Homo sapiens: one gene and its partners. The protein of the gene in region 2 interacts with the protein of the main gene of each other region in a biochemical or structural test. Each region holds a gene or a part of one and is shown on either strand. Other genes may lie near its edges.

The links.
Region 1: of the proteins of MMP9 (region 2) and SCUBE3, one has a biochemical effect on the other in vitro, tested with the Homo sapiens proteins (one study listed by IntAct).
Region 3: of the proteins of MMP9 (region 2) and ELN, one has a biochemical effect on the other in vitro, tested with the Homo sapiens proteins (one study listed by IntAct).
Region 4: the proteins of MMP9 (region 2) and TGFBI form a complex in vitro, tested with the Homo sapiens proteins (one study listed by BioGRID).

Annotation. Positions count from the first base shown.
Region 1 is NC_000006.12:35,237,956-35,244,955, forward strand, and holds part of SCUBE3 (signal peptide, CUB and EGF-like domain-containing protein 3 isoform 1 precursor), read left to right. Parts: coding exon 1-63; intron 64-752; exon of another isoform or gene 753-1,796; coding exon 1,797-1,919; exon of another isoform or gene 1,920-2,418; coding exon 2,419-2,535; exon of another isoform or gene 2,536-3,185; coding exon 3,186-3,311; exon of another isoform or gene 3,312-3,587; coding exon 3,588-3,704; exon of another isoform or gene 3,705-3,850; coding exon 3,851-3,955; exon of another isoform or gene 3,956-4,248; coding exon 4,249-4,365; exon of another isoform or gene 4,366-4,666; coding exon 4,667-4,825; exon of another isoform or gene 4,826-5,065; coding exon 5,066-5,281; exon of another isoform or gene 5,282-5,638; coding exon 5,639-5,800; exon of another isoform or gene 5,801-6,007; coding exon 6,008-6,175; exon of another isoform or gene 6,176-6,475; intron 6,476-6,694; coding exon 6,695-6,856; intron 6,857-7,000. UniProt on the Homo sapiens protein: Is a positive regulator of the BMP signaling pathway, required for proper chondrogenesis, osteogenesis and skeletal development. It acts as a coreceptor for BMP ligands, particularly BMP2 and BMP4, facilitating their interactions with BMP type I receptors.
Region 2 is NC_000020.11:46,011,908-46,018,798, forward strand, and holds the end of MMP9 (matrix metalloproteinase-9 preproprotein), read left to right. Parts: intron 1-229; coding exon 230-406; intron 407-519; coding exon 520-675; intron 676-1,347; coding exon 1,348-1,627; exon of another isoform or gene 1,628-1,749; coding exon 1,750-1,889; exon of another isoform or gene 1,890-2,216; coding exon 2,217-2,367; exon of another isoform or gene 2,368-2,463; coding exon 2,464-2,567; exon of another isoform or gene 2,568-2,881; intron 2,882-4,342; coding exon 4,343-4,461; 3' UTR 4,462-4,654; downstream 4,655-6,891. UniProt on the Homo sapiens protein: Matrix metalloproteinase that plays an essential role in local proteolysis of the extracellular matrix and in leukocyte migration. Could play a role in bone osteoclastic resorption. Cleaves KiSS1 at a Gly-|-Leu bond.
Region 3 is NC_000007.14:74,023,328-74,032,200, forward strand, and holds the start of ELN (elastin isoform a precursor), read left to right. Parts: upstream 1-4,845; 5' UTR 4,846-4,860; coding exon 4,861-4,942; intron 4,943-8,873. UniProt on the Homo sapiens protein: Major structural protein of tissues such as aorta and nuchal ligament, which must expand rapidly and recover completely.
Region 4 is NC_000005.10:136,059,532-136,064,318, forward strand, and holds the end of TGFBI (transforming growth factor-beta-induced protein ig-h3 precursor), read left to right. Parts: intron 1-1,302; coding exon 1,303-1,405; intron 1,406-1,968; coding exon 1,969-2,048; intron 2,049-3,131; coding exon 3,132-3,156; intron 3,157-3,654; coding exon 3,655-3,695; 3' UTR 3,696-4,287; downstream 4,288-4,787.

The DNA of each region.
Region 1 (7,000 bases), on a different chromosome or scaffold from region 2:
CTGGTGTCCACTGCACCTGCCCTGTGGGCTTCATGCTGCAGCCAGACAGGAAGACGTGCAAAGGTAAGGACTTTGAGAGGACAGAAGCAGAGTGACCTTTGGTAAGGGGCTGAGGTTGGGACCAGAGATAGGGTGCCTATTAGGGGATGACACCTCCTCAACCTCCTTCTTATGAAGAACCCAGGACATAGCTAAGGGTTGTCTCCTATCTGCCTGTTTCATCTCAGTTCAAGGGACAGAGAAGTCCAGCCAGTTCCTTAGTGCCCCCTTCCCCTACCCCACCTTGTTTCCCTACTCTCATTCCTATCCCCCATGGGTCCCTAACCCTCTTAGTTAATGGACATGCGATTCACATTTGCTCCTGGGTCTGGAAGGATATTTGAGCCCTGACTGTGTGTGTGCATGAGGTCACAGGTGTGTTCCATAACCTTCTTACCCCACATTCCTCAGACCTTCCCAGTGGGCTCTGGGGAAATGATGTCTACCCCTCGAAAGGCTGTACTGGTCAAAGGGAGAGTAGGATACTAGTTAGGAGGACTGAAGCTGGGTTCAGATCCCAGCCCTGTCTCCTACTAGCTCTGTGATCCTGGACAAGTCACTTAATGTCTCTGTGCCTCAGTTTTCCATAGTGCTCGCCTCATACTGTGTTGTGATTAAAAGAGTGATTACATAAAAAGTACTTAGAACAGTGCTTGGCAAATGGAAACACTTTGTGTTAACTGTTATTACAGTATAGTTACCCACATTATGCATTCTGTTTCCCTTCCTTTTAATTAGCCAGGTCTGAGGGAGAATGGGGGGAAAGGGTGGAGGAAAAAGGCAGGGTAGCCATACTGAAAATGATGATTCATTAGGTCCATATCCCCTGGTCACAAGGAGTGGGGACGAGGAGGACTGGGCTCGTTCTTTGTGTCTTTTGGCCCAACAGCTGCGAGAGGAGGGGGGAGGCTAGGGCAGCAGGTCAGCCAGCCAGAGTTGAGAGGTTTCCTGCTGGGAAGAACTGTTGACAGGTATGCTAAGAGTGAAGTGAAAGGCTGCCCTCCCTGCCCCTTCCCCCAACCAGGGGTGAGTAGCCTGGGTCCTGTCTGCCACCAGCTTGGGGAACTTGACCTCAGGAAGGAAGCCATTCACCAGCCCCCCTTTCCCTTACTAGTGCTGAAAGCTGCCTCAGGCCTGAGTCTCTCCAGATCTCTCCCAGTCCAGCCCCTTGCCTGGCCCCCAGCCCTCCCCCATCAGCTACCCAGCCTCACTGGCTCTCCTGGAGGTCCTCCCTGCCTGGCCTCTTTCCCAGCTCCTCCTCCTCCCTAAAGGGCTGCCCGTTTTCAGTGAGTCCCTTTAGACCCTCCACCTCTCCTTGCCCCGCACCCCCCCAACCCCCCGTCCTGAGGGACAGGAAAGAGATAACCCTTACCCACCAACCTTTCAGGGAATGGCCATCAGCTGGAGACTAAGGGCTAGCCTGTTAGGTCAAATGCCCACCTGCCCCTCCTCTAGGTAATTCCCTGAGGGCCTGTTCCTAGTTTTGGTTCCAATTTGTCCCCTTATAAGAACACTCAATCCCAGAAGAGAGGGTGTTACTAATGGCCACAGATCCCCTGAACAGGGAAGAAACAGAGACAGGAAAGAGAGAGAGAGACAGGAAAGAGAAAGAGAAAGAGACAGAGAGAGATCAAGAAGAGGCAGGCCCAGGACTCCTTGATTTTTGCATGTCTCTGTCAGTGAGGGAGGGATCTTTCTCCTTGTTTGTTCTCAGCCTTTGATAGTATCTTTTATCCTGTTTTGTCCTCCTTCTTCAGATATAGATGAGTGCCGCTTAAACAACGGGGGCTGTGACCATATTTGCCGCAACACAGTGGGCAGCTTCGAATGCAGTTGCAAGAAAGGCTATAAGCTTCTCATCAATGAGAGGAACTGCCAGGGTGAGCAGACTCAGCCAAAGGTGAAAGCCTTAGGAGAGGTTCTTGTGGGAGAGCTTCAAGGAGGCCAGAGGGCTAAAGTCTTAGAAACTCAATAGATATCACACAGAGTCTCTAGAGGCAGTGTCATCCTGCAAATTAGCAAATGGTACTCTTTCCCCTCAGCGGACTAGCTCCATATCAAAGCATTCAGCCTGGCAAGGACTGAGGGATGGATTTCACCCCAATTCATATCCTTGGCAGAGTAGGACGTACCTAACCACACATGGTGGGCCCTGACCTAAAGGCACCAGATCTTGCAGTTCCTAATTCCAAGGACTTCAAATAGAGGGGGCAGAGAAGATGGAATGGCATTGTTAAATCACTGGTCCTAGAGCTAGGACATGAATAGGAACTCTTCAGTTCAAGGGGGAAAGCCAAGGCCCCTCACTTGGGTCCTTCACCTGAGCAAGGGTCAAGTGCTCCAAGACAGATTCAGTGGCTTGAATCTTTGCTCTTCCAGATATAGACGAGTGTTCCTTTGATCGAACCTGTGACCACATATGTGTCAACACACCAGGAAGCTTCCAGTGTCTCTGCCATCGTGGCTACCTGTTGTATGGTATCACCCACTGTGGGGGTAAGCTAGTAAGCTTGCACCCCCAGCCACCCTGGCCCCCTCACCTCTTCACCCTCCAATTGAACAGGTCCTTGTGTTGGCTTGTGGCTATGGGCAATCCCTGGATGCATGCACCATGTCTGCATCCGCTGTGACAAAATAGGAGGAATTAAGACAGCTTTTGAAGAACTGGGAGACTGCGGAAACAGCATCCTGCCTCCAAAATTCCTATCTCCCATTCCTATAACTGTCCCTGAACCCCCACTCTCAGCTCCCAAATGACAGTCTCACTGGTTGGGAGGAGTGGAAGGCTTTAAAAAGCTTGTTGGCTTGGCCCCTTCTCGATCATTCCTTTGGGGACAGAGATAATTGGAGGAGGTTTGAGCTCTTCTCAGGCCAGTAGTCATCTTACAGTGCCTAGAATGCCTTTTTAACTTTTTTAAATTGTAAGAATATTTAACAAGAGATCTACCCTCTTAAGTTTTTAAGTGTACACTACAGTATTTATGTGCCTATAGGCACACTGTTGTACAGTAGATCTCTCGAACTTATTCATCTTGCGTAATGCAGGGTACCTGAAACTCTAACCAAAGGCCCTCACTCACTGCCTACTCTCCGGCTCCTCCTCCAACTCCATCGTTGTTTTTCTGTCTCCCTACTCCTTCCCCCAGATGTGGATGAATGCAGCATCAACCGGGGAGGTTGCCGCTTTGGCTGCATCAACACTCCTGGCAGCTACCAGTGTACCTGCCCAGCAGGCCAGGGTCGGCTGCACTGGAATGGCAAAGATTGCACAGGTGGGCAGTGCCCTCTGCTGGCCAAAGATGACACTGCCATTTCAGGGAGCAGTTGGGGTTCTGGAAAGCATAGAGTATCACATTGGGGAAAGGTGTGAGGTGGAAAGGGTGGAGAATGTAGCCATTTTGAGTTAAAGACATGAAATTTGTAGTAAACAATCCCATCATCAGTCTCCATGGGTACAACAATAGTTATGCAAGTAGCTGATTCCTCCAAATTACCCAACTGAGGGAAAGGAATGCATTCATTTGCTCAGGCCTCTCTCCCCTTCCTAGAGCCACTGAAGTGTCAGGGCAGTCCTGGGGCCTCGAAAGCCATGCTCAGCTGCAACCGGTCTGGCAAGAAGGACACCTGTGCCCTGACCTGTCCCTCCAGGGCCCGATTTTTGCCAGGTACATGGGAGGAGGGTGCTGGAGAGCTTTGGAGGAGAAAAGAGGAAGGACTGGCCGTTCAGGCAGCTCCTTCATTCCCCCTGGATTCCTCCAGCCAGCGGGGGTTGGGAAGGCAGGTCAGAACTGTGACAGGCTCCTTTTCTCAGAGTCTGAGAATGGCTTCACGGTGAGCTGTGGGACCCCCAGCCCCAGGGCTGCTCCAGCCCGAGCTGGCCACAATGGGAACAGCACCAACTCCAACCACTGCCATGGTAAGCACCAGCCCAGAAGCCCTGTTCCCACCCTACTCTCTTACATTAATCCCTTATTTTTGTTCTTCATCAATCCCCTGGCCTTCCTTTCTCCTGGATCCTCTTTTTTGCCCTGTAATTCTCCAACCCTGCTCCCTCACTCCCTCTGCCCTAACATCTGATCCCCTTGACTTTCATAATCTCACTCCCCCAGCCAAGCCCCTGGCTTATTACCCAGCTTCTCAACAACCCCTACGGCACCCCCGACCTCCATGGGCATCCCATACTGTGCTGAGTTTCTACCATCCCTCTAGAGGCTGCAGTGCTGTCCATTAAACAACGGGCCTCCTTCAAGATCAAGGATGCCAAATGCCGTTTGCACCTGCGAAACAAAGGCAAAACAGAGGAGGCTGGCAGAATCACAGGGCCAGGTTTGGACTGGGGACCCCATTCCAGTTGGCTGTCTGGCCACTAAATCCTCCTTACCCCTCAGCTCCTCTGCTTCCAAAAACCCACCAGAACCCTGAACTCTAGGCAGAGCAGAGGAAAAAGCAGCTGTAGGCATAGCACCCAAGGAAGTCCCAGAATATTCCCCTCCACCAACTAATTAGGACCCTAGACTAAAACAGGATTGAGAGATAGTTACAGTTAGAGATCTGGGGAGGTCTGTCTGGGCTGGGAGTGAGAACTTTCCAGGGGATGTCCCTGGGGTTGACAAGCCCTCTCTCCCAGGTGGTGCCCCCTGCTCTGAATGCCAGGTCACCTTCATCCACCTTAAGTGTGACTCCTCTCGGAAGGGCAAGGGCCGACGGGCCCGGACCCCTCCAGGCAAAGAGGTCACAAGGCTCACCCTGGAACTGGAGGCAGAGGTCAGAGCCGAAGAAACCACAGGTGGGACTGGGGGCACTGTTGGGAAGAGGACTGGAAGGGGAGGGCAGAGGTGGGGAAACCACAGGTCTCAGCAGCAAAAGGAAGGGATGGAGCCTGTACTAGGGGCAGACCCTGCCTGGTGCCAAGCCTAAAAGCTAGTCCCTCTTACCATGCCCCTCCTAGCTCCCAGCTTTGCTCCCCTGCCCTCCTGCTCACAGCAACTCTTTCTCCTCCCTGATACACACGGCCATCCACCACCAGCCAGCTGTGGGCTGCCCTGCCTCCGACAGCGAATGGAACGGCGGCTGAAAGGATCCCTGAAGATGCTCAGAAAGTCCATCAACCAGGACCGCTTCCTGCTGCGCCTGGCAGGCCTTGATTATGAGCTGGCCCACAAGCCGGGCCTGGTAGCCGGGGAGCGAGCAGAGCCGATGGAGTCCTGTAGGCCCGGGCAGCACCGTGCTGGGACCAAGTGTGGTAAGGGAGCTTACTGGGGAGCAGGGATGTAGGAAAGACCCAGTTTGGGCCTGACTCAGAGCAGGACCCTTTGTGGCCTCAGATGCATTTCTCAAATTATGAGGCAGCCAGGATGCTCCTGCCCGCTGTCCTCCCTTCCTTGGTTCCAGGCTGAAATCTAGAAGGATGCCAGGTGGGGCCAGCAATCCTCCTGCACACGGTTTTGACCCTCCTATCCCCCCAAGTAGGATTGTGTTTGTTCCCTGACAGAGATTCTCCCTGAATCGGGGGTTGTGGCGGGGAGTGGGAAGGGGAGTCCCAGGCCTGGGTGGTGGGAAATGCGGGGGTGGGTGGCTAGCGCGGCCGACTCTCCCTCAGTCAGCTGCCCGCAGGGAACGTATTACCACGGCCAGACGGAGCAGTGTGTGCCATGCCCAGCGGGCACCTTCCAGGAGAGAGAAGGGCAGCTCTCCTGCGACCTTTGCCCTGGGAGTGATGCCCACGGGCCTCTTGGAGCCACCAACGTCACCACGTGTGCAGGTGCCAGGGGAACAAACAATACAGAGTGGGGTAGGGTGGGCACTGGGATGCCCATGGGCATGGGATTTCCCAAAGGGCAGGCCCAGGCTCCAGGCCACTCTCTTAGTCAACATCCTGTTTGTATACCTTTGTCCCCTGAGATCGGGTGACCCCATGGGGATGACTCAGGACCATCCCCATCAGAGTTGGGCCCTTGATTCATTGCAGGTCAGTGCCCACCTGGCCAACACTCTGTAGATGGGTTCAAGCCCTGTCAGCCATGCCCACGTGGCACCTACCAACCTGAAGCAGGACGGACCCTATGCTTCCCTTGTGGTGGGGGCCTCACCACCAAGCATGAAGGGGCCATTTCCTTCCAAGACTGTGACACCAAAGGTGAGTAAGCTACTCACCTCCCTGGGGGATGCCCCAACCCCAACTACTCCCAAAAAACTCTCCAATTTCCCAGAGGGGACACTGACCCACCATTTTCTCCAAACCAGTAATGGGCCCAGCTACTTGACCAACCATACCATCCTGCTTCCAGGACCCACCCTGCCCCTCCACTAGTCCCAAGCTTGGGAACTGAGAAATAATTAACAGTCCCACTTACCCCTCCACTTTGGAGAACTGGTGGCATATTCTCCTCCATATCCCAAATGAGTTTCTATATAGGTTTGGCACTGTGCTCAGCGTCTGAAAGAAAAGGATTGGCACTGTAGCCAACCACTCTGTAAACTCTGTTTTTCCGTGGGCTTAAATTCTGGCATGACTGGGAAAGATTGAGACCCTAGAAAAGAACTTTGATGTATCTGATCTCCTGATTCTCCAGGATGAATGTATCCTGTCCATCCCATGCCCCGTAACTCCCACCTGCCTACCATCTTGATTCCTGCCCTTCTCCCTTGCCTACAGTCCAGTGCTCCCCAGGGCACTACTACAACACCAGCATCCACCGCTGTATTCGCTGTGCCATGGGCTCCTATCAGCCCGACTTCCGTCAGAACTTCTGCAGCCGCTGTCCAGGAAACACAAGCACAGACTTTGATGGCTCTACCAGTGTGGCCCAATGCAAGAGTACGTGGCAAGCCAGGCTGTGCAAAAGGGAGGAGAGAGGCCTGGGAGCAGTGGACATCTAAAGGAGGGGTGTGAAACCAACAGGGAGCAGGGCTGGGGGGTGGAGGAGCAGGAAAACTCCACCTTCCACCTCTCCCCAACTCA
Region 2 (6,891 bases):
GACTTCCAATGGCCCCGCCCCAGCCACTAAGGTTCGGCCTTTTCTGCCCAGCTGGCCGCCTCTTCCTTGGTCTGGTGTCCCAGGCACCGCCCACGGGTCTAGCCTCTTCTCAGGAGTGCTCTACAGCGCCCCCTAGGCCACCAAGATTGTTTAGCTCCCTGTCGGGTCGGCCCCTGACTCCTTATTGGACTCATCCATCTGGCTCATCCAAGGCCTTGGGTCTCTCCAGCTGACTCGACGGTGATGGGGGGCAACTCGGCGGGGGAGCTGTGCGTCTTCCCCTTCACTTTCCTGGGTAAGGAGTACTCGACCTGTACCAGCGAGGGCCGCGGAGATGGGCGCCTCTGGTGCGCTACCACCTCGAACTTTGACAGCGACAAGAAGTGGGGCTTCTGCCCGGACCAAGGTAGGCGTGGTCCCGCGGCTCCGGGGCTGGGGTTCCCGGCAGTGGTGGTGGTGGGGTGGCCAGGGCTGGGGGCTCGGCCCGGCGCTCACGTCTCAGGCTCCCTCTCCCTCCAGGATACAGTTTGTTCCTCGTGGCGGCGCATGAGTTCGGCCACGCGCTGGGCTTAGATCATTCCTCAGTGCCGGAGGCGCTCATGTACCCTATGTACCGCTTCACTGAGGGGCCCCCCTTGCATAAGGACGACGTGAATGGCATCCGGCACCTCTATGGTGAGGCAGGGGCAGGGATGGGAGGAGGAGGGGAAAGGGCGTGGCTGTGCCACAGTACCAAAGAATTGGGGGTTGGGGATCGGGGGAGGAACGGGGCGTGCAGGAGAGGTGGGACCTCAACGTCTGTCTGGAAGCAGAGCCTGGGCCCAGTCGCTGCCATGTCAGTGCTTAGAGGTGGTGATAAAGAGACTCTAGAGAGAGATAGGTGTGACTTCAAAAGCCAGTCTACTCTGGGCATGGTGGCTCACGCCTCTAATCCCAGGGCTTTGGGAGACCCAAGGCGGGAGGATTGCTTAAGCCCAGGAGTTCCAGACCAGCCTCGGCAACATAGCCAGACTCCCATCTCTACAAAAAATAAATGAGCAAGGCGTGAAGGCACATGTCTGTAGTCCTAGCTACTCTGGAGGCTGAGGTGGGAGGATCTCTTGAGCCCAGGAGTTCGAGGCTGTAGTGAGCTATGATTGCACCACTGCATTCCATCCTGGGCCATAGAGGATGTCGCTTAAAACGAAAAAGAAGAAGAAGAAAGTCCTGTGGTTTGGGAAGGGAGGCTGAGTGAGGAGGGGCCTGTGTGCCAGAGGAGGCTTCACTGAGAAGCTTAGGGGAGCAGATGTTCTAGGGGTACAGAGGTATGCAGGAATAGGAAGAGTCTCACCCCGTGTCTCTTTTTAGGTCCTCGCCCTGAACCTGAGCCACGGCCTCCAACCACCACCACACCGCAGCCCACGGCTCCCCCGACGGTCTGCCCCACCGGACCCCCCACTGTCCACCCCTCAGAGCGCCCCACAGCTGGCCCCACAGGTCCCCCCTCAGCTGGCCCCACAGGTCCCCCCACTGCTGGCCCTTCTACGGCCACTACTGTGCCTTTGAGTCCGGTGGACGATGCCTGCAACGTGAACATCTTCGACGCCATCGCGGAGATTGGGAACCAGCTGTATTTGTTCAAGGATGGGTGAGGAGGCGGGGTTGTGTGGATGCGGGAGGGGGCTTTGCGGAGGGGCTGCCCGTCCCTTCCCGCCCACTGGCCCTGTGTCCAAGGCTTAGAGCCCGTCCTTTCCCTCCTCGCTTTCTCAGGAAGTACTGGCGATTCTCTGAGGGCAGGGGGAGCCGGCCGCAGGGCCCCTTCCTTATCGCCGACAAGTGGCCCGCGCTGCCCCGCAAGCTGGACTCGGTCTTTGAGGAGCGGCTCTCCAAGAAGCTTTTCTTCTTCTCTGGTTAGTTACCTACTTTCCCTCCCCCGCCCGGTCAATCCCCATCAGTCAAGGAGGCTCAAGAGACCATCGATAACCCACGAAACGTCTTGTGCGTTTTAGAAAAATACGCCCCCTGGCGGACGCAGTTTAGCAAACGTAGGGGCGGCTGAGTTTCTGCCCCCTCCTCTCCACGCCCTCGCGTCGCTCTACCCAGCGCCTCTGCCCCTGGGTTGCAGGGACTGCGGGCACGCGGGCTAGGAAAGGCCTCGCCGGAATCTCCCTCCTCGCGTTCTAGGAGTACGTGCTCCCTCTGCGCCCCCAAACCGACGTGACCCTCCTCCCCTGCAGGGCGCCAGGTGTGGGTGTACACAGGCGCGTCGGTGCTGGGCCCGAGGCGTCTGGACAAGCTGGGCCTGGGAGCCGACGTGGCCCAGGTGACCGGGGCCCTCCGGAGTGGCAGGGGGAAGATGCTGCTGTTCAGCGGGCGGCGCCTCTGGAGGTGAGCGCCGCCGCGGCCGCCGGCAGGGGGAGCCCGGGCGCCGTCGGTCCGTCCGCTAGCCGGCTCAGCACCTGTCTCCTCCGCGCCTGCCCGCAGGTTCGACGTGAAGGCGCAGATGGTGGATCCCCGGAGCGCCAGCGAGGTGGACCGGATGTTCCCCGGGGTGCCTTTGGACACGCACGACGTCTTCCAGTACCGAGGTGAGGGCTGAGGAGGATCCCTTCGTGAGACACCACACTAAGCTCCTCTTAGTGAGTGGTCAAATTCTGAGCGAGGAAGAAAAAGCCCTTGGAAATGGAAACAAATGCCCCAGCACAGACAAGATCCCAGCAGAGGCAGAGGCCTTCTCCAGGTCATTTAGGAAGTCAGGGATGCAACCAAGACCAGGACCCAGATTTCCTGCCTCCCCGGCTGGAAGCTCTTTCTCCTTCAGTACAGGACGGCAGGTGGTTTGTATGGAAGCTCAGTTATTAGACAACAGTCATCAAGTGCCGATAATGTGCCAGGCACTGTGCTACAGGGAGAGATAAGACAATTCACAGCTCTGTGACTTTGGGCAAGTCACTGCTTCTCTACTCTTCGAGCCTCAGTTTCCCCATCTGTAATATGGGGACTATAGCTGGAATTACACTTGACTTCCCTTTCTTACCAGTCACATCCAAACAGTTGACAAGGTGAACAAGATTTCCTGCCACCAAAATCTTTTTCGAGTCTGTCATTTTTTTTGCCATCTTCTTTATAAACACCCCAGCCCAAACCATACTGGCTGTCCAGGACCTTTAACAAATTCCATGAGATTAGAGAGGGGGTAGGAGTGAAGGGCAATGGTCTTGGGAGTGACCCCAGATGAATTCCAAGGTCAAAGAAATTAAGAGGATCTGACACTCCACCCCCGTGTTCTCATCTCTTCCCACTCCTCCTGTTATTTACTCTGCTCCACCCACACTGGCTGCTCTTTGAACAGATCAAGGTCATTCCTAGCTTACAGCCTTTGTGCCAGTTGTTCCCTCTGTCTGGAAAGCTTCCCCTCCAGATTGTCACTGGGCCATCCCACTGTCTTCCTTCAGGTTTCAGTGCTAAGGCCATTGCTTCAATGAGGCCTTCTTTGATGCTTATTATCTATTTACTTGTTTTTATTTTCTCCATAGCTTTCTATATTTTCTTTTTTTTTCTTTTTTCTTTTTTTTTTTTTTTGAGATGGAGTCTTGCTCTGTCGCCCAGGCTGGAGTGCAGTGGCACGATCTCAGCTCACTGCAACCTCCGCCTCCCGGGTTCAAGCGATTCTCCTGCCTCAGCCTCCCAAGTAGCTGGGATTACAGGTGCCTGCCACCACGCTTGGCTAATTTTTTGTATTTTTTAGTAGAGACGGGGTTTCACCATCTTGGCCAGGCTGGTCTTGAACTCCTGACCTCGTGATCCACCCGCCTCAGCCTCCCAAAGTGCTGGGATTACAGGCATGAGCCACCGCACCCAGCCGCTTTCTATATTTTCAAAACCAATCTCATTTATTTATGTGTTTGCTTAATTGTCTCTTGCCTCACTAGAGTGTAAGCACCAAGATAATTGAGATCATGCCTGCATTTTTTCTGCTTATCCCCAGTATCTTGAACAAAGCACATAGTAGATGCTCAGTAAATGATGAATGAACAGATTTGTTCAATGAATGAGCGTTGAATGAATTGTTCTGAGCATTAAGATAGTTGGTCTATTCATTTGTTAATTCATTCACAAAATGTGTATGGTGTACCTACTGTGTGCTAGGCTCTGTGGCAGTGCTTTGGGCACTGAGGTCTGTGCCCTCCAGCATCTCACAGAACCTCACAGCATCTCACAGGTTGGGGGGATGGAGGTGATATGTGAAAACCTTAGAAAGTTCTAGAAATGGCAGAAGAGATGGTTGTCAAGATCTTGTTCCTATTTCTGTATATGTGGGAGAATTAGAATCACTCCTCTTATGCCTGCCTGTCTCCTGCAGAGAAAGCCTATTTCTGCCAGGACCGCTTCTACTGGCGCGTGAGTTCCCGGAGTGAGTTGAACCAGGTGGACCAAGTGGGCTACGTGACCTATGACATCCTGCAGTGCCCTGAGGACTAGGGCTCCCGTCCTGCTTTGGCAGTGCCATGTAAATCCCCACTGGGACCAACCCTGGGGAAGGAGCCAGTTTGCCGGATACAAACTGGTATTCTGTTCTGGAGGAAAGGGAGGAGTGGAGGTGGGCTGGGCCCTCTCTTCTCACCTTTGTTTTTTGTTGGAGTGTTTCTAATAAACTTGGATTCTCTAACCTTTAGAAGCAGACTTTATTTATATATGTATGCACGTATGTATGCATGTATGTATTTAACTGATAGAGTGCAAAAAAAAAAAAAAAAAGGAAAAACAAATAACTGATAGAGTGCTTTCTACGTGCCAGAAAGTGTTCTAGGCCGGGCACGGTAGCTCACTCCTAGCACTTTGGGAGGCCGAGGCAGGCGGATCACGAGGTCAGGAGATTGAGACCACCCTGGCTAACACGATGAAACCCTGTCTCTACTAAAAAAAAAATAGAAAAAATTAGCCGGGCGTGGTGGCGGGCGCCTGTAGTCCCAGCTACTTGGGAGGCTGAGGCAGGAGAATGGCTTGAACCTGGGAGGTGGAGCTTGCAGTGAGCCGAGATCACGCCACTGCACTCCAGCCTGGGAGGTGGAGCTTGCAGTGAGCCGAGATCACGCCACTGCACTCCAGCCTGGGTGACTGAGCAAGACTCCGTCTCAAAAAAAAAAAAAATAGTGTTCTAGGCACTTTGTAAATGTTAACATATTCAATCATTCCTGTTAGGAAAGTATGATGTGATTATTTCTATTTTACAGTCAAGGAAATGATCAACCTGTTTATTCATTCATCAAACATTTATTGAGCCCCTACATGGAGCCAGGCCCTGTACTGGGCAATGGGGATAGAGAAATGAGTTAGACTTTAGAATGCATAAGATTCCCCTTGGAACTTGCTTAAAATGCAACTCCAGGCTCCACCTCCAGAGAGTCTGACCTATTTACAAGGGTGATTCTATGGCTGGTGGCGGTGGGATCACACTTGGGGAGTGTGCAGTGCATGATCTTTTATTCTACAATAATGGTGTGTGTGTGTGCACATGTGTGTGTGTCTGTGTTGTGGTTGAGGTCCAGGAACGTTTCTCAGTCAAGATGACATCTGAACCGGAACTGAATCAGAAAGGATGAACGAGCTTCTTCCTGTGCAAGGGACAATCTTCTTACAGGGTAATTTACCAAGAACCACTAAACCTAAAAATGTAACTACTTTCTGACCCTCACATGTGTGCACAAGACAACACATAGAAGGATGTTGATTGCAGCATTGTTTGTTAGTGAAAAACTGGCAATAACCTAGCTGCCCAGGAGTAAGTCAGTGGATAAATAAAATATGGATCATATACCTGACGTTAGTAGCTATCCACGGTACAGCACTATGTGCCAGGCACTGTTCTATGTGCATTTTGTGTGACAAAACAACCAGAGGAGATAGGTACTCCTATTACTTTGTATGTACTATTATTACTGCCATCACCAATCCCTTGTTTTACAGATAAGGAAACTAAGGCACAGAGAGTTATACAACTCACCCAAAGTCTCATAGCTAGTGAGTGATAAGAGTGGGATTTGAATGTGGGTTCTTGGTGCAAGTGCACGAAGAGAAAAAGAAGAGAAAAAGCAGTGGGTGTCTGGAGAACTTCAAATGGCTCAGAACTCCAGCATGGGGTAGTAGCAGGTGGCTAAGAGGGAATGGAGAGGATTCCAGAATGGTTAAGATAGCAGTGCTAGTTTGGGCTAGATGAGAGAAGTCCTGAATGCCAAGCTGAATATGAATTTGACCTTACAGGTTAGCAAAGGGACTTGACTGAAAGATTGGGGCCCGTGAGTGGAGATGATGGGTTTGATCAGGGCCCACGTGGGAATTTAAGTAGGAGTCCAGAAAACTGCCCTCCTGAGCTTCCTCTTTCATCTGTTTCTTGCTCAAATGACCCACTCCCACTTGGCGTACAAACATTCCCCGCCATGGCTTGTTTACAATCTGTCTTAACCCCTGCCTCCCACTAGATACTAGTCTATTTCTCTACCTTCCTATCCCTATTCACAATAAAACTTCCCAAAAGCATGGTCTCTACTCACTGTCTCCACTTCCTCAATTCCCATTCTCTCCTCAGCCATTTCCAGCCTGGCTCCCACCCCACTACACCACCAAAGTCACCCTCTTCAAAGCCATTTATGACCTTCTTGTAGCCAGATGTGACAGGAGCTCCTCTCTGCTCATCCCACACCAACTCTCCCCACATTGACACAGTGGATCCTGCCCTTCTTCCTGAAACTCTCGGCCTCTGGAACCTTACTTCTGGGTCTCCTCCTACCTCACTGGGTGGATTTTCCTCTTCTGGTGACAGAGGCACCCTTGTGCTCAATCGTGGGAATCCTCTGCTCTGTGTATACTCATTCCCTGTGATGTCTGGTAGCCCACAGCCTTAAATAGCATCTC
Region 3 (8,873 bases), on a different chromosome or scaffold from region 2:
GAGGAAACACGGCATGGCCCGGAGGTTGCAGGGGGCAGCACTCACAGGGATGGGGCTTTCTGCTATGCCTACCCCTCCACCCAGCCATGATCAGTGGCCTGAAATGGTGTCATGGACCCCCTCCCATGTTTGAGCACTTGCTGTATACCAAATTCTTACAGATATGTTTGTACTCTTAAATGGTTATGAAGATCCTGTCTTCATAGGACGAAACCAGGGATTCTAGGGGTCAATTACTGTTGATGTCACCATCCTTCATTATTATTAGATAATCTGGCCAAACTCATACACTAATCAACATCAGTCCCCATCACAACCACAACAACGACTGCTGACCCTTCCGAACCCACTCCCAGCCTGGGGGGTTGCAGAAGCACCGAGTTCCAGAATTTCAGCCTCCCTCCCACAACGTCCAACGCACCCCCTCGAAGCACAGCCTGTCCTTCTTTTGAGCTGGCTCTGTGTGATGAAGGGACACCCAGCAAATGGCCCAGACCCATGGGCATTCGATCTATTTTCGGTTGCAGTCCCTTTACCTCTGACACCTGTGCCTGCGCCAGACCCCTTCCTTTCCTGGCCGGCCATCCGAGGGGTCCCTGGTGGCCTCTGGGAAGAGAGGAACTGCAGAAGTCCCTTTCATTTTCCAGCTGAGGTGCTGGCTCTGGGCCGATGCTGCCGGGCACCCCACAGGAGGTAGCCGCCCTCTCTGGCTCAGTCACCAGCACGAGGGCAGGGCCACTCCTTTGGGGCTGCTTGTCACGGGTGCCCTTTGCCAGCCTCCAAGGACATCCTTCCTTCTCTGTCCCTCTCCCCTGTCCTCAAGCCCCGTCCCATTTTGAACCTCTGCATAGCAGGATTCAGATTCCCTTCCAAGCGCATCAGAACTAAGGCTAGCTCTGGCTGGGCATGGTGGTTCACGCCTGTAATCCCAGCACTTAGGGAAGTCGAGGCGGGAGGATCACCTGAGGTCAGGAGTTCAAGATCAGCCTGGCCAAAACGGAGAAACCCCGTCTCTACTAAAAATACAAAAATTAGCCAGGCGTGGTGGCGCGTGCCTGTAATCCCAGCTACTCAGGAGGCTGAGGCAGGAGAATTGCTTGAACCCGGGAGGCGGAGGTTGCAGTGAGCCAAGATCGTGCCACTGCACTCCAGCCTGGGTGACAGAGAAAGACTCCCTCTCAAAAAAGAAAACAAACCACCAAAAAAGAACTAAGGCTAGCTCATCTCACCAGTCCTTTATGATCTAAACCAGTGCTGTCCCCGGTGGCAGCTGCTGGCCACATGTGGCTAATGGAGCACTTGAAATGTGACAAGTCCAGATTGAGACGTACCCTCGATGCAAAATACACACCAGTTTTAAGACCTGGTACAAAAAAGAATGCAAGATATCTCAATAACTTTTATTTTGATTGGATGTTGAAAGGATTATACTTTAGATATGTTGTGTTAAATATATTACTAAGAATAGTTTTACTTATGTTTTCTTTTATTTCATATGGCTACTAGTAAATTTAAGATCATAGGAGGGGCTGGATGCGGTAGCTCACACCTGTAATCCCAGCATTTTGGGAGGCCGAGGCGGGCGGATCACCTGAGCTCAGGAGTTTGAGACCAGCCTGGCCAACATGGTGAAATCCGGTCTTTACTAAAAATACAAAAATTAGCTGGCAGTGGTGGCGGATGCCTGTAATCCCAGCTACTCGGGGGCTGAGGCAGGAGAATTGCTTGAACCTGGGAGGCAGAAATTTTAGTGAGCGGAGATCACGCCACTGCACTCCAGCCTGGGTGACAGAACGAGACTCCGTCTCAAAAAAAAAATCTGAACTTTGTCTGGATAGCGACGGAGGGTGTCTGAGCAAAGCACGATGTTCTCAGAGCCATCCAGAGACTGGGAACTCTGTCCTACCAAAATGGGTGCACCCAGAGGAGCTGGAAGATAGAGATGCCCTGTGGGTGACTCATCTGGTTGCCCCTTGGTGGCACTGAGCCAGGCAACAAGCGGGAAAGGCTTGTCAATGATAACGGCAAGACCAACGATCACCAGGCAGCCAGGTGCACCCGGTAGCCCTCTGTGGGCAATTCTGCATGTATGACCTTATTTAGTCATACAGCTAGGCAAGGAGGTGACACTAAGCATTTGAGTACTGATGGGGTCTTGAATGAACAAGTAAATGAATGAATGAATGGATGGTGGCCGATGACTGTCATCTCTAGTTCTTACATTATGTATCTTATGCATCAGACTACACGGCATGGATATTCAGTGCAATGGATTTGATTGTGAATTGAGGCCCCCTTTTGCAATCTTGTTGCATGTTATGTTCGTGGAGCTCCTGCAATGAGCAGAGGCTGCTAAGCAGAAGCAGCGCACAGGCTGGGGGCAGGACACAGGGCCCCCGGCCTCAGGGGAGAGGTCTGTTCCAGCCACCTCAAGTCTATTCCTGTGAGTGCCCCTCCACACCCCTCCTGGATCCCCCCACTGCAAACTCTCTCCCCCTGGCTCCGGACTCTCTCCCCGTCCTGGAATTAATAAAGACTCTGTGCAGACTGCGGTTTGCAAGTCTGAAAGCTGGTTCCTGCCCGTGTCACTGCCTCGAGAAGAGAGGGGTCCAGCTCCCCACAGTAGCCCCTGCCTTCCTCCTTCCCAGGCAGGCGGAGGCACGCAGATATACCATTGACTTCCCCTCCCCTGCAGCAGGCACATCCTGGGCATCGAGCTTCAGACCCTGCCCCTGAGCAGCCCCTAACCCCACCAACAAAGGGTGGCTTGGGGGGGCTTTCACCCCAGCATAATCTCCATCAGCTACCCTCAAAGCACCCCCAAATAAACACACACCGTAAGTAAGAGCTGTACACTGGCTGTGTGCGTACATCTTCAAGACAATTCTCCCAGCATGCCCCTACCTTCCAAAATTCCAGAGCTGCTCCCTCCAAAGACCCAGGGAAAAGGAAGGGTTTGTCCAGGGTCCTGGGGTGGCCCCGTATAGACCAAAGCCTGATAGCTGTCCTAGAAGCAGAGTACTTGCAGAGCGAGTGACGGCAACTGTGGTATTGACACCAGTCCTAGCACCAGCTGAACACAGAGCATTTTTGATCTAGCAGAAATACAAGACCACGTTGTATTTGTCTTTGCAATAATCTCTTAGCTAGGAATACTGATCACCTGTAGACAGATAAGGAAACTGATGCTCTGTGGAGAGGTTTTCCTACCAGAAAGGCTAGAGCCAGAAATTTACTTCTAGGTCCACCAATACCTGCCTTTGACCAATGCCTGCATTTGACCTTTCCACGCTGAGCCACCCCTGCTGGCACTCCAGACTGCCACAGTGCTCCTGCCTCCACAAGGGGTCTTTAACTCATCCCTCGGAGCCATCGTGGTGCAGGGAAAAGCCCACAGGGCGTGTGGCTTCCATGCTGTTCCCTGACTGGCTGTGACCTAGGACAAGGAACAAGTTTCCCTCTCCTATTCTCTAGGTCTCACATTTCTTCTCCTCTAGCAGTAGTGGGAAGTGAGGGGTGGGGGACACGACCCTCCCCTGTTCCATCCCACACTCCAACCCCCAAAATCCCCCAGGGTCCCCGTCCAGCTCAGTCCTGGGGGCAGAAATGCAGAGTTCTCCAGGAACGTGGTCCCAGCTGTTTCAGTGCAGGCCGCCCCCTCCTGGCCACCAGCGGAATGTCAGCCTTCCCAGAGGGGCCGGGAGAACAGCAGTCGAGAAGCTCCCAGACTGGTGTGGGCGCTAGCTGTGCTCAGCGTGGGGATGGGAGGTGACCCAGTGATAATGGGAAGCTGGGCTGCCTGTCAGTCTGCGGGGGGCTCCCACCTCCCTGTTCCCCCACAGGGCACCTGGGGATCCAGCCTGATTTTTACCAGACCCTGCGGCCTGCATGGGGCTGGGTATAGGGCTGTGACCTTGACCCATGCAGAATAGAACCCTGTGTGTCGGGATCCTCCATGTGCTCCAGATGCCCCTGGGGACAGCACCAACATGGCCTTAACTCCCAAGCCATTCCCCTGCCTCTAACCCCCTGGCATCTGCAGGCATCCACCCCAGACCCACCCAACACCTCCTCCCCAGCTTCAGGCGCTAGGCAGAGACCTTGGCCCCTGCAGAATGCAGCCCTGTCCAGGGTCCCCTACCTTCCCCCCAGATCCCTCCCAGAGCAATACCAACCCGGGCCTACCTTCCAGGCCATTCAACCTGCAGCCCCCCGGCCTCTGTAGACATCGCACCCCCCAAACCCCCAGACCTGCCCAATGCCTCCCCTCCCCAGCTTTGGGCAGAACCTGTCTCTAGCCAGACCTGGGGGTGTTGGGGAGTCTGGAGGGCCGGGGTGGGGGCTGAGGCGCGGGACAGCTGGCCCGTATCCTCACACTGGGCCCGGGGCCCAGCCGGAGGGGCGGGGGCCTGGCCACTCGGGCCTTGGCTGGGGCTGGGATTTTTGGCCTGGCCGCCAGGCCCTCCCTTCTGCTTCCTCTCCCGAGGGCTGTCCTGGCAGAGGCCCCCCTCGCTCTTTCTGGCGGGAACAGGGCCAGCAGCGAAAGAACAGTCGCAGAGGGAAAGCGGGAAAGAGATGGGGGAAAGTGTGTGTGTGTGAGTGTGTGCTTGTGTGCATGTGTGTGCGTGTGTGTGTCAAGGAAAAAAGCTCGCAGTCCAGCAGCCCGGGCCTGGGAGGCTTGTGAGCCGGGCCTTTCGTAATTGTCCCCTCCCCGCGGCCCCCTCCCCCAGGCCTCCCCCCTCTCCCGCCCTCCCGCCCGCCCTCTCTCCCTCCCTCTTTCCCTCACAGCCGACGAGGCAACAATTAGGCTTTGGGGATAAAACGAGGTGCGGAGAGCGGGCTGGGGCATTTCTCCCCGAGATGGCGGGTCTGACGGCGGCGGCCCCGCGGCCCGGAGTCCTCCTGCTCCTGCTGTCCATCCTCCACCCCTCTCGGCCTGGAGGTAAGGACCCCTCGCCCCTGTCCCCAGCGCTGCCCACAGCTGCGGGCCCTTTGGGCCAGGTGACTAGACGCTCAAGGGGGAGACCTTCGTCCCTGGGAACTGCAAGGGGTCCCAGGTGGGAGCCCCTCAGCCACTGGGTCCTCGGAACTGCCCCTCCCAGGAGCCAGCCCCGTGCCCAGGAGGAACCTGTCAAAGAGACACCCTCGACTCAGAATAGTCCCAGCCCAGCATCCAGGCTTTGCTGCCCTGCGAGGGCTGAGGGGGCCCCTGCTCAGGTGCCCGGGTGCCCGCCCTGTAGGGGGATCAGAGCATCCTGGGGGAGGGCCCAGCGGGAACCCCTGGGTCTGGAGACACCACAGTCTGCACACCTGTGGACACAGCTGGGGTGCACACCAGCCCTGGGGACAGGGAACCTGGGCTTGATACCAGCTCAACCGCAGTGAGCTGTGTGACCTCAGCAGGTTCCTTGACCCCTGGGAAGCCGGGATCCCCCCGTCAGGAAGGTCAGGGCTCCGCTGAGGATGGGTTTGCAGGTTGGGAAGCTGCTGCTGTGTTCTCCCTGCTGAGGCAGGCAGGGACTCCTGGTATGCATTTGTGTGTGTGTGTGTGTGTGCATGCACACAGGAATGAGCGTGCTGTGTGCTCGTGTGTGTATGTGTGCATGCACAGGTGTGCATGTGTTCAGATGCCCGGCTGTGTCACTGAACAGGGAAAGGGATTTCTGGAGGGGTACATATGTCTGCTCACAGGTTCATCCTTAGGCAGGTGTATGCGTATGTTTGGAGGAGGTATATGAAGCTGCTCCTTAGTGTGTGCAAAAGTCTGCCACCTGACAGACATGTAGACATGTACACATGTAGACATGGGCGATCTGGCATCCAGGTGTGACACTGGTGTGGACTGTCACTGTGTGTGTTATGGAGTGTGTACATCTGTGTGTGTGAATGTGTGTGCGATGTGGCACGCAAGCATGGAAAGGCGGGCTGGAGAAGGTGTCTGTCTCCTGGCAGAGGCAGTGTGGCTGAGACAGAGGCTGGAGTGGATCCTGGGGCACTGCTGGGCCATCTGCTATGTGCCCCAACCCAGGCACAGTTGGTTATGGGGTTTGAGGGTGTGCCCTGTGGGGCTGCTATGCCGCGGCCAACGGGGGAGGACAGAAGAGGCTCCCGGGCATGGGAAAAAGGAGGGCATTTGGTAGGGGGGTCTGGGTGGAGTCTGGTTTCCTCGGGAGTCCTCCTTGCCATGAGAACCAAACGCTGAGTGGGGGGCGGGAGGGCCACGGGGTGGAGTCAAGGGCCTGGGCAGGAGCTGCAGCTGTTTCCGTGAGATTGAACAGCTTCCTGTGCAGGGTCCGCTGCTGGACCTGGATGAGGCCAAGGGACATGGGTACCCACAGGCGGGCCCCAGCAGGGGCAACGAGCCAGGGCCTGAAAGCAGCAGCCCCGGGTCCGTCTCAGCCTCCTCCCCAGGTGTAGCCCCCAAACACCCAGCCACCCTTCTTCCCAGATGGGGCCACCACCTATAGGGTGGCAGTTCATCATCAAGGAACCTTGAGAATTAGAAATTATTATCATCACTTGACAAACAAGGAAGCTGAGGCTCCGGCAGGCTAAGGCAGTCCCCGGGGGTTAGTATCAGCCAGCTCTCTGCCCCAGGTCAAGGGGCAAGGGGGTTAGGAGTGAGCTAGCAGGCAACATTTGGGGAGGGGAAGGCTTGGGGCTGAGTCCTTAAAGCAGGCATGCCCTAGGCAGAATCAGCTCTCTCCTTGTGTCCTCAGTGACACCGCTAAACGCCCAGCTGGCCTCACACTTTGCAGAGATCAATCTCAGCTCTGTCCCAGGTGGCTGGACTTGCTAGGTCCAAATAAGGGGTGTGTGAACTGATGAGCTCGTGTGGGGTTTTGCACAGAAGTGCTACTGAAGTCTGCAGAGGTCGGGGAGCCAACACAGGGAGTGGAGCGCTCAGTCACATGCTCACTGCCACTCACCTGGCTGTCCTGGGGGAGCCTGGCTTCTCCCTCAAGGAGGAGGGTGTCACTTATGCAAGTTCAGCGGCTCCAAGGAAGGAACCCTGTTGCGGGGGTGGGGGAGCAGGAGGAGGGGACAAGCCGCACAGCTCCCAGGCTGTTTCAAAAGTGAGCATGAGAAATTAACCCAGGGATAATTCTTCCCCATCCCCCAGAAATAGTATCAGGGATTTTTTTTTTTTTTTTTCCTGATTTCAGAACTGAAGATGGTTTGGAACAGAGGTTTCCTTTTCTTTTATTTTCCTTTTTTATTTTTATTTTTTTACCTTTTTTATTTTTTTTAAATTGAGACAGGGTCTCGCTGTGTTGTCCAGGCTGGTCTGAATTCCTGGGCTCAAGTGATCCTCCCACCTCCGCCTCCCAAAGTGCTTGGATTACAGGCATGAGCCACTGCCTCTTTTTAAATATTTTTTTAATTATTGTTTTCCGTCCTTAAGTAGGAACAGGGGTTTTCAACCTGGCTATCTATTAGACTTCCCACCCAAGAATCCCTGCTTGCTTTGGTTGGAGAGGGACCTGGACACAGACTTTTCAGGCTTCCCAGGTGACGGTGGGGTCGCCAGGGCCAAGAAGCACTGGTTTAGAGGTCGATCCCGCTCTGTGTGTCTGCCGAGGCCCCGGCATGAGGGCAAATGTGCCCTGTGTGGGAGGGGACACAGTCACCCAGTGGAGGACAGCTTGTTTTTGAAAACCCTTGGCAGCCTTCTGCATGCAAACAACAAACAGCTTCGTGTGGTCTTATCTGCTCCCCAAGCCAGCCCCCTGGACTTTGGTTTGGCAAAGCCCCCTGCCAAGATCGGCTGGCCCCAGGCTCGCTCCCAAACAGGCTGCTTCCAGCTCTTTGAACCTGGAGCCCAGGGCCCAGGCAAATGGCCCTACATGTGACTTGGGGTCAGCTGGGGGTCCCAGACCAGGCTCTTCAGCTCACTGGTTCTCCATTTCCCTGGCTGCAAAATGGGGAGAAACAGCCCTGCCTGAAGTACCTCCTAGGGCCAGTGAGAGCTTCTAGCAATGTAATATCTGGGGGGAAAAAAAGCATCAAATAAAAGGACCGTGGGAATGGGCATTTTTAAAATAATCTATTCTCTTATTCAGAGTCTGCTAATTTGGGCTCATGGATCCTTGTAATTAGTGCACATTGCTAAGGTTTAATACTCCCTCTCACTACTTACACCATGTTTTGTCTAGTGGAGGGGCAGCTAATGTGTAAATAGATGTGCAATGATGAAAGAAGCAGACAGGACTCGGTTGGGGGTGGCCAGAAGGAGCCTTGAGAAATCCAGGAAGGCTTCCCAGCAGAAGTGACATTTGAGTTAAACCTAAAGAGAAAAGTAAATGGGGCCAGGTGCAGTGACTCATGCCTGTAATCCTAGCACTTTGGGAGGCCCACATGGGCAGATTGCTTGAGCCCAGGAGTTTGAGACCAGCCTGGGCAACATAGGAAGGCCCCCGTCTCTATTTAAAAAATAAATGAATATTTAAAAAGAAAGAAAAAGAAAGAAAGAGAGAGAGAGAGAGAGAAAGGAGAGAGAGAGAGACAGAAAGAAAGAAAGGAAGGAAGGAAAGAAGGAAGGAAGGAAGGAAGGAAGGAAGGAAGGAAGGAAGGAAGGAAGGAAGGAAAATGTTGGAGGACCTGTCTGTGGATGAGGGGTAAGTCCCCAGACTACAGGCCCTGGCAGGCAGAACTGAAGAGACAGAAGAGCAGATTCTCGATTGGAGGAAGCCCTGTCTGCAGTTAGTGCTGACAGCATTTGGAGGTGGTGATTTTCCCATCATGGGAGGTATGCAAGCAGAACACGAAGGATGTTTGTGGAAGGAGGTCCAGCCCAGGCCAGAAGACTATTATGATCCCTGAGAGTCTAGGATCGTGATTCTAAGATGCAAGAGACAAGTTCCACCCTGGGC
Region 4 (4,787 bases), on a different chromosome or scaffold from region 2:
TCTGTACTCACACCATCCCACCCCCCAAACCCAGGGCTTCACTGAGTTGTACCATGAACCAGACCATCCCAAGAGGCTTTTTGAGTTCTGACACTTGCTCTGTGAGCCTTCCCTTGCTCTGCACATTGATGATATAACTTTGTAACTGCACTAAGAGTGTTCCTAAAGCAGATAGCCAGCCGAGCTCCAGAAATCTCCCTGGCTGCACCTGCAGAGGCCACTGACCCCTCTGTGGAGGGACCGCTCTTCAGTGTGTGGCTGGCTTCTACTCTCTGCTCCTCTCTCTTGGTCTTCAGCCATCCATTGCTCACCAGTTTCTCACGAGGAGCATAGGAAGATATGCATGTAGGGAGGTAGGCACGGGGATGACTTGTTTGACTTTAGCAGGTCATTCAAGAATCTCCTCGCACCTGGTTTCAGATGCTGGGGTCCTGTCTGTCACAGGCTTCTGTGCCTCCTACCCCCTTGAGTTTGTCACATGGCCCTTCAGGAAGGCCTGAGATAGATTTGCCCTGGGTGGGCCTCCTATGAGAAAATCTTAAGTGAGGCACCCAGGCAAAATGGAAAGAGCCTTTTGCCCAGAGCAGGAAGCCTGTCTTCCATTTCCAGCTGTTCCACCTACTTAGCTTAAAAGAGGCACTTCGCCTGTCTTCAGTCTCAGTCTCAGTCTCCTCTTCTGTGGAATGGGACAATAATATCTACTCTCCTTATCATACACTGCTGTGAGGACTGAGTGGATCACACAAAAAAGCATTATGTAAATTGCAAAGTGCTAAATCCACACAGGAGATTTGAATTAATCCACCACACTGAAGGTCTGTCAAGGGCAGGGACTGTTTCATTCACCAGAGTATCCCCAGTCTAACACAGGACTTGGCATATGAAAAGTGTTCAGTAGGCCGGGTGCAGTGGCTCATGCCTGTAATCCCAGCACTTTGGGAGGCCAAAGTGGGCGGATCATCTGAGGTCAGGAGTTCAAGTCCAGCCTGGCCAACGTGGTGAAACCACATCTCTACTAAAAATACAAAATTAGCTGGGCGTGGTGGCACATGCCTGTAATCACAGCTACTCTGGAGGCTGAGGCAGGAGAATCACTTGAACCCAGGAGGCGGAGGTTGCAGTGAGTCGAGATCATGCCACTGCACTCCAGCCTGGGCGACAAGATTGAAACTCCATCTCAAAAACAAAGAACAAGGAAAAAAACGAAAACTGTTCAGTAAACACTTGCTGAATGAATAAAATAAATATATAAATGTATAAATAAATGCTCTACTTTCAACCACTACTCTGTTTTTCTTTTAGAAAAACAATGTGGTGAGTGTCAACAAGGAGCCTGTTGCCGAGCCTGACATCATGGCCACAAATGGCGTGGTCCATGTCATCACCAATGTTCTGCAGCCTCCAGGTAAGTGTCGCATCCCCACTGACTCTGCAGCCAGTCCTTTTCTTCATGTGGCAGTTGGTGGAGAGAAGAAAAACTGTTCTAAACAATGATGAGAATAACATGTAATTGTGATAGTTAAACTGTGCCTATGTGACTGATTGCAGAGTGAATTGGGAGCTGTTGGTTTTGAATGCACCACACTAAGGAATGTGAGGACACATTGCTCTTTGCGGAGTTGCCCAGCTATATTAGCTCCCCTCGGACACAGCCCAGTTTTCTGTATTCGCGTGGATGCTGTCCGCGCGATTCCCAGCACTCCTCTTACAGCATCTCACCTCAGTGTATGTTCCTTGCCTCCAGTGCAGTTGAACCTCAGTCCTGCCTCTCCTCATGTGTGCATTCACCTTTCTTGGTGCTCTCTCCCCATGGGCCAAGTTCTACCATGAGTTATGAAACATTATGGAGAAAACATGTCTTTGGAAATGTGAGCCAGAAAGCCCACCAGTGCCCCTCAGTCACGGTTGTTATGAATGACATGCTAATGGTTTCACTCTGGTCAAACCTGCCTTTTCTTTCCTCTTCAGCCAACAGACCTCAGGAAAGAGGGGATGAACTTGCAGACTCTGCGCTTGAGATCTTCAAACAAGCATCAGCGTTTTCCAGGGTAAGATGCCTGCTAGGTTTGCGCCTAGCCTGAGCAGCCTCAGGTCCTCTGTTTGGGCCATAGAGGAGCCTCTCCAGCCCCTGTCTTCCTTGGCTGCTCCCCAGGGCTCTCTTAAAACTTCTCCCCACTCCCACTGAGGCATCCTCAGCCCCAGCCTGTGTCAAATTCAGAGTAAAGAACCAAGGCAACTCCCTGGCTTTCATGGGCCAAAGCGCAGGCTTTCACACCGAGGCCTCTGAGCCTCAGATCATGGGGAAGTCACTGCTGGAGAGAACAGACATAGCTCTGGAAGCCATCTGCCCAAGAGGGCAGCCCATCCCAAGTTCATCTTACAGTGGCCAGGCCTGCCCTGAGCCGGGGCCTCTGGGTCACTCTTCTGCTGTCCATGGCATTGCCCATCCTGGGTGAGGCTGGGGCTCTCCTGGGCACTGTATGTATTCTGGATACAGGGATACTGGGCTCGCTATGTGTGTGGAGCCATCCCTTCCTTGCCCCAGCCCCACCTCCCTCTCAAACCCTCTCTGGCTCTTTCTGAGCTTCCTTTCCTGCTCCCCAGCTTGCCCAGTGCTCAGTGCCCCACTTGGCTCTTTTGCTACTTCGGGTCAGGTGGAGCCTCTTGGGAATGTGAAGTGCCTTACAGAAAGATTGCACTTCAAGAGGAGAGGCTGCAGGGAGCCATCCTAAACCCAGAGGCCTGGAGCTTACTGTGTCACTTTACTTTTGTACACAGGGGTCTCCTTAGTGCCCTCGAGAAGGATTCTTGGCCCTGAGCTTCTACTCCTGAGGCCACCTCTGTGCAGCCCCAGCTCCCTCAACTCTAGGCTGTAGTCTCAGTGGGAAAGCCTGGCTTGGGGGTCTCCTAGGAATGTCCACCTGAAGGCACACTTGATAGGGGCTTGCACAACTTATGTCTGCCAAGGCCACCTGAGGAACTCCCTGGTGCCTATAAGTTCCACCTTCCCCTTCCTCTTCCTCGCCCCAGCATTTTTTCTGAGTAGGGGTGGCAATGGGCAAAGCCATTGTCATAAGCAGTTGCAGGTATAACTTTCACTAGAAAACCTGACACCTTGTGTTTTCTTTCAGGCTTCCCAGAGGTCTGTGCGACTAGGTGAGTCTGGTCTGGGTTTGAAGTCATTGCAGACCTGTTTAGGCCTTACCCCCAAGCAAGCCCAAGCCTGCCATCTGCTGTATATAGATAAGAACATCATGGTGCAGTAAAAGAAGCCTGGCCTTTGGAGTCAGAACAGCAGGGTGACTTGGGGTCAGACCCAGAGCACCCCATTTCCTTCTCTGTAAGATGAGGATAATAAGAGTAACAACCTTTTAGGGTTAAGGTGAGTTTTCAGCTTAGGAAGTCTGGGAATATTGCAAAGGGCTTGGCAGGAACCCATGGTGAGGATCTAGTTCCAAGTTGATAGGTACAGAAAACCAGAACATCGGGCCTTGAGTAAAGAGTGAAGTTTCACAAACCACAAAGCACCTGCTATGTGCAGGAGAGCATGGCAGAAGGAGGCTGCTTGGCCCTGGTCCTTGAGATTCTGACAGTGTCCTAGACAGACATGGGGAGATCTGCACCTATTTGACGTTACCAACTTCTCTTTTTCAGCCCCTGTCTATCAAAAGTTATTAGAGAGGATGAAGCATTAGCTTGAAGCACTACAGGAGGAATGCACCACGGCAGCTCTCCGCCAATTTCTCTCAGATTTCCACAGAGACTGTTTGAATGTTTTCAAAACCAAGTATCACACTTTAATGTACATGGGCCGCACCATAATGAGATGTGAGCCTTGTGCATGTGGGGGAGGAGGGAGAGAGATGTACTTTTTAAATCATGTTCCCCCTAAACATGGCTGTTAACCCACTGCATGCAGAAACTTGGATGTCACTGCCTGACATTCACTTCCAGAGAGGACCTATCCCAAATGTGGAATTGACTGCCTATGCCAAGTCCCTGGAAAAGGAGCTTCAGTATTGTGGGGCTCATAAAACATGAATCAAGCAATCCAGCCTCATGGGAAGTCCTGGCACAGTTTTTGTAAAGCCCTTGCACAGCTGGAGAAATGGCATCATTATAAGCTATGAGTTGAAATGTTCTGTCAAATGTGTCTCACATCTACACGTGGCTTGGAGGCTTTTATGGGGCCCTGTCCAGGTAGAAAAGAAATGGTATGTAGAGCTTAGATTTCCCTATTGTGACAGAGCCATGGTGTGTTTGTAATAATAAAACCAAAGAAACATACGTCCTGTGTGCATGGTACAGTGTGCTGACCTGAGGCCGTCATGCTCCTCCACACCTCAATTCTGCTCTGGAGAAGCTCAGAAAGGAGCCCCGAGGGATGGTTTTGGGGAGATTCCAGCAGCCAGCCCTCAGACAGCCAGACAGCTCATGGGGGTTTGAGCCTGTCTTTGCCAAACAGGTTTTTATTTCACCCTCCTCCGGTCCTGGGGTTTCAAGTTTTCAGTGTTGCCTTCACCCCGCACTTTATTCCTCTTATTACTTGGAAGTACCTTCCCTCCAGCATGGTGATCCCCTGCCTGTGTGCTGGACTTTTGAGTCCTCAGCACCAACCTGTGAAGTGGTTGCCAGCATAATCCCATTATGCAGATGAGGAGACCAAGGCCCAGGGAAGGGAGAACCACCAGCAGCACGTAAAATAGCTGAGCTGGGACTGGAACTCACACCTCCTGACTCTCAGTGACCACCACTGACAACAGCATAAGTCCAGGTTTTCCAGGCCC